2 separate regions of the Homo sapiens genome follow, and region 2 is linked to region 1. The links come from fine-mapping of genetic effects on gene expression. Tissue or cell type: whole blood. Region 1 holds a variant in brackets; the other region holds the start of a gene. All regions are shown on one strand. Distances are between the middles of the regions. Region 1 overlaps TFDP2 (transcription factor Dp-2). Region 2 holds the start of TFDP2 (transcription factor Dp-2).

Evidence for each region. PIP is the estimated chance that this variant, and not a neighbour inherited with it, causes the effect.
Region 2: it holds the start of TFDP2, and the variant in region 1 is the best candidate, but not a certain one, in a credible set for the expression of TFDP2 in whole blood (TOPMed, PIP 0.65).

Annotation. Positions count from the first base shown.
Region 1 is chr3:142,114,305-142,117,215 of GRCh38, reverse strand. The region is part of intron 1 of TFDP2 (transcription factor Dp-2); the gene reads left to right. Among named protein-coding and RNA genes, the nearest start is that of TFDP2, 34 kb to the left of the region's middle. The variant G/A (reference allele first, on the strand shown) is at 1,607.
Region 2 is chr3:142,147,873-142,150,783 of GRCh38, reverse strand. It overlaps TFDP2 (transcription factor Dp-2), which reads left to right and starts at 1,240. Exons shown (of 13, transcript NM_001178139.2): 1 at 1,240-1,601. RefSeq lists silencers at 965-1,014, 1,125-1,334, 1,395-1,464, 1,695-1,744 and an enhancer at 1,095-1,595.

The DNA.
Region 1 (2,911 bases):
GGTGCAGTGGCTCATGCCTGTAATCCCAGCAATTTGGGAGGTGGAGGCGGGCAGATCACTTGAGGTCAGGAGTTCGAGACCAGCTTGGCTAACATGGTGCAACCTCGTCTCTACTAAAAATACCAAATTAGCCAGGGGTGGTGGTGCACACCTGTAATCCCAGCTACTTGGGAGGCTGAGGCAGGAGAATCGCTTGAGCTTGTGAGGCTAAGGTTGCAGTGAGCCAAGATCACACCATCGCACTCCAGCCTGGGCAACAGAACGAGACTCTGTCTCAAAAAAAAAATCCTTTTCCAGATGACTAATTTTACACCTGAAAAATCCAAGAGTCAACTGAACTTACAGTAAAATTACTTTAAGCAGTAAAAGAATTAAGTTGTGTAATGGAATATAAAATTAGTAAAAAGAAAAACGTAACTTATATGCATACAGCTAGGAAAATATAATGGAGAACCCCATAAGTTACAGGAACAACAGCAAAAAGGAAACAGAGAAAAAACTCAAAACCAAAAAATAAAATACCTAGGTGTAACTATAATAGTGTGCAAAACCCATTGTGTTACTTTCCTAGGACCACCATAACAAAATGCCACAAACTGGGTGGCTTAAAACAACAGAAACTTATTTCCTACAGTTCTGTATGCTGCAAGTCTGCAATCAATTTGTCAGCAGGGCCGTGCTCCCTGTAAAGCCTCTAGGAGAGGATCCTTTATTGCTTCTTCCAGTTTCTGGTAGCCCTGGGCATTCCTTGGCTGTGGCCACATAATTCCAATCTCTGCCTCTGTCTAGGAAACTGCCTTCTTCCCTCTGTCTGCATCTCTTGTTTCTTTTTTCCTCTTAAGAGAATACCAGTGGCTGGACTCTGGCTCACACCTGTGATCCCAGCACTTTGGAAGGCTGAGTTGGGAGGATCACTTGAGGACAGGAGTTCAAGACCAGCCTCGGCTACATAGTGAGACTCTATCTCTACCAAAAATTTTAAAAATTAGCCCAGTGTTAGGGTATATGCCTGTATACCCAGCTACTTGGGAGTTAAGGCGGGAGGATTGCTTGAGCCCAGGAGTTTGAAGTTGCAATGAGCTGTGATTGCACCACTGCATTCCAGCCTGGGTGACAGAGCAAGACCCTGTCTCAAGAAAAAAAAAAAAAAAGTTGCAAAATGAATACAGAGAAATCCCATTTACCCGTAGCCCAACTTCCCCCAAGTGGTAACATCTTATGTAATTGTAGTACATTGGCCAAATCAGGAAATTGACATTGGTACAATATAATTGACTGGACTACAGATCCTACTTGGATTTCACTAGTTTTTGCATGTGCCCATTTTTTGGTGTGTCTTTGTGTATAGTTCTGTGACATGTTATTAGATGTATAGATTCGTATAGCCACCACCACAATCAAGATACAAAACTGTTCTGTTACTGCAAGAAGGTAGCACTATTGTAACATTTAACAGCAATAGTAAATCTATCATTGTTAAATGAAAAAAACAACATCATAGTATGATACTATTGAACAAGACTAAAATTTAAAAAGACTAAAAACAACAAAAGTGTATTTCTCTACATGCAGGTACTTATATGAAAATGCATGGAATGGGCCGGGC[G/A]CGGTGGCTCACGCCTGTAATCCCAGTACTTTGGGAGGCCGAGGCCGGCGGATCACGAGGTCAGGAGATCGAGACCATCCTGGCTAACACGGTGAAACCCCGTCTCTACTAAAAATACAAAAAATTAGCCAGGTGCAGTCGTGGGCGCCTGTAGTCCCAGCTACTCAGGAGGCTGAGGCAGGAGAATGGCGTGAATCCGGGAGGTGGAGCTTGCAGTGAGCCGAGATCGCGCCACTGCACTCCAGCCTGAGCGAGAGAGCGGGACTCTGTCTCAGAAAAAAAAAAAAAAAAAAAGAAAATGCGTGGAATGAGCTCTGTGCAAGGATATTTACCAAACTGATAACAATGAAGTTTAGAAATGATATTTGAGGTGTTCAGATGCGGAGATTTTCTTTATCTGTATGGACTTTTTAATAACCAGAATGTTTTCATGTATCTATAATTTAAATGTTTTTAAAAGAATATATATAAGAACACAAATATAAATGTCAGTGAATTCTGTTAATGGTATTCATCTGCTAGTTAGAATTGTAGTGGAAGTGGAGGGGCAGGAATTAAGGAAGACTTGCTTTGTATTGTATTTTCTTCTGCACTGTTGAGTTTTTTTTTCTTATGAGCATATATAATTTTTTTATTGAAAGAATTTTTTTATGGAAGGCTTTATAGGACATCTTGAAAACTGGCAGTAACAGAATAATGTATATGACTTGCTTATGTACATTTTCCTATATATACCTTTACATTTAAATATACATCTATGCATATACATGTACCTGAAAGTGTCTGTACAAATATCATTAGGTTCTTATCTTTCAATAGTAAGATTTAGAGTAATTTTTATTTTCTTCTTTGTGCTCTTCTATAGCTTTGGATTATTTTGTAGTGAGCACATACATCATTCAACTTTCCTTTCCCTTTCCAAAGGTGTTTTTAAGAAGGTAGGAAAAAAAGAAAAAAAAAACCTGTATCCTGCTTGAAAATTGAGAAAAATGATGACAGCTTTTGCAGTTAACCTTTAGTTAGTATAAAATTTCACGATCTCCATCATATCCTGTGGAGTCTGATAGGGGGTTGTGATTGTTAGGGATTTTCAATATATGGTACATGAAAAAAATAAAGTGGATGAGGAGCGTATGCAAACAAGGCAATTGTTTATTTTTCTATAAGGCTTTTTTTAGTCATCTAAAACTATTTAATACTTTATATTCTTAAACATTTATACATACAGATAACACAAATATCCTATATTTTTTAAAACCTTAAATTACTTTAAAATGAAAACTGCTTAGGACATGTCTTTTTATG
Region 2 (2,911 bases), 34 kb before region 1:
ACTGAAGCCATTCCTCCAACACCTCTGCTTATATTTTTTTCCCATAGCACACATACCAGCATGTAATATAGTTTTTGTTTTACGTATTCTTTTGCATATTATCTTTCCCATCCTGCTAGAATGTAAGCTCCATGAAGGCAGGAGTTTTTGTCTCTATTTTGTCCACTGATGTCTCCCCATATCAAGAATAGTGTTTGGGGCCGGGCGTGGTGGCTCACGCCTGTAATCCCACCACTTTGGGAGGCCCAGGCGGGAGGATCTCTTGAGTCCAGGAGTTCCAAACCAGCCTGGGAAACATGGCGAAACAGCCGGGTGTGGTGGCGCGGGCCTGTAGTCCCAGCTACTCGGGAGGCTGTGGTGGTAGGATCACCTGAGACTGGGAAGTCAGGGCTCCAATGAGCCGTGATCCTGCCACCGCACTCCAGCCTCGGTGAGAGCAAGACCCCGTCTCAAAAACAAACAAAGTGGCATATAGAAGATCTATAAGATTTGACTGGAGTAAAATGAGAAAGATCTAATCGTTTTAATGCGCTGTTCACACGGGGTTTTTAACTTCGGCACGAACGAATGAACAAAATCTTTTCATATGGAACCAAGTGTACGGGTATTTGGGGTGTGTGCAGTTTCCGCGGGACAGAATGACCTGTCCTGGTTTGGGTATTAACTTGCCTTGATATTGAAGAACCTCCACATTCCCAGTGGTCTCTAACTCATTGTCTGAATAATTTCAAGGTGTCCCACAGTTGGCCCCACGCATAGCCTCAATCACGATCACTCGCCCCCCTGTCCCTTATTGATGCTCCCCCAGGGCGACCCCGCAAAGGCCTGGGGACCGAATGGAACTGCCCCAGTCCCCCTCCTTCCAAGAGAGCTGGGGTTTTCTGGCTTCGGGGTCAGTTGGAAAAGAGATTCCCACCCAAGTCGCAGGGTGGGAGTAGGGGGGATGAGATAGGAGTGATGAAGGAAGTGTGTCTAAAATTCTAGGCCTCAGGCCCGCAGCTGTCCCTGGAGGCGGCGGGGAAGCGGGGTGGTCGGGTCCTGCGGAGGGCTCCCAGGGAGGCCACAGGGGGAACCAAGGGGCGGTGGCTGAGTGCACGAGTCCCGCCCCTCCATCTGTTGGCCCCCTACTCTCAAAGGGAAGCCTGGGGGCGGGGTTTGTTTACTCCGTGCACGCACTGCCGGCCCGGCCAATCCGTGGGGAGCGGCGCCAGGCGTCGCACATTCTGAGGGCCAATCGGCGCGCACTGTGCTGCTCCGCCGCCAAAGCTCGCGCGGGGGAAGCGGGGCTGTAGCTGGGCAGGGAGAGGGCGGACGAAATCGGTAGCGATCTCGGCTGCGGCGCTGCCGCAGCTGCCCGGCCCGCGGGGCGCGCCCTGACCCTTCATCTTTGGGCAGGCTCGAGGGCGCGCGCACGGTTGGCGTTCTGGGGCCTCAAACTCCTGGGCCTTGACCGGGCAGGCCGCGTCTCCCCGGGTGTGAGTCCACCGGGACCCGGCCGCCGCCTAAGCGCGGGCGCCACAGAAGCGGCGGCGCCCGAAGACGCGCTCCTGGCTCGGCCCGACAGCCTCGCTTGGCCGCCAGTTCTTCTGCAGCCGAAGGCGGTAAGGTCTGGGGCGAGGGCGCGGGCCCGCGCGCGGAGGGCCTTTGGACCCGGCCGGGCGCGTTCCTGGGTAGGTTTCCCTCCCTGCGCACAGGGGCCCCCTTGTTCCCCCACGAGTCCCATCTGTTTAGACCTGGGTTCTCCAGGCCTGGCCGGGTAACCCGTGAGTGTCTGGGCCAGAGTCGAAAGCAGAGGAGGGTCACCCTCTTAGTGCATAGAGCAAATCGGGGGAGGTAACGTCCCTGAGTCACGCCTCGTGGAAGAGGGGAAGGGCTGCTTTCTACTTTCTCGTTCTCTTCAAAGAAGGATGGCTTCTAAATCTGGTTTTCCGATTTTTCCCTTCTCCTTTCATGACTCACAGGCCTCTGTGTCCACCAGGTGTTTTGTTTGTTTTTAAAGAGTTTCTAAGCTTTGTGTGCTTGGAAGAACCTCATATGCCCCATAAAGGAACTTTTCTCTGAAGTAGAGGATCGCTTTTTGGGCCCAGACTCCTTTGAGAAAATCTGGAAAGCCAAGGTCTGTCTTCACAAAGAAGTGTAAGGGTTTTCCTAGGATCTCGCTGAGAGACAGTACAACGAAGTGGATGAGCGCCCCAGTCTCTCTTACCAGCCTGTGCTATCTCCCATTGTGTGATCTCGGTTTCTTCATCTGTAAATTAGATGCATCCACCTATTCGGTGTGTTTCGGGGAGTGAATGGACTAATGTATGGAATGCAATCGTAAGAAAATCCTCCACGTATTAAATGCCTTGCATTAGTTAGGCACTTTTATTATTGACTGCCATGGATGCTGGTTTAGAAAAAGACCCTATATTATTTCCCTTTTAGTGTTGAGACAGTGAACGGGCTCATTCCTTTTCCATATTCACTGCTGAAGCTGCCTTTGAGCCCATGAATACTTTTATCTTTTCCTCATTCCATCTCAGAGGGCACAGACTCCCTCTCACTTATTTGCTTTCTTTCAGTAAGGCTCTCTTTTAGCTCAGCCTTCTCCTTCCCCTGTCTCCCCGAGATCTGAGTTTTGTGTCTTTTCATTTGACTTGCACAACCTACTTTTTTTTTTTTCTGGGCCATGTGTTTTCTCTTCATGGCTTGAATTTATCTTCACCTAATAAATAATTTACCTGTTTTTTTTTTCAGCTCGTGAATATATATTCATCTATTTTCTATATGGCATAATCATGTCCCTGTCTCTCTTTAAAAGTAGATATAAAAATAGTTTAATTGATCTATATTGCAGCTTCCTTTTCCATTTCATTGTTTAGCCTGTTATTTAGCTAAACTTTATCACTATCAGATTACTGTAATTAAT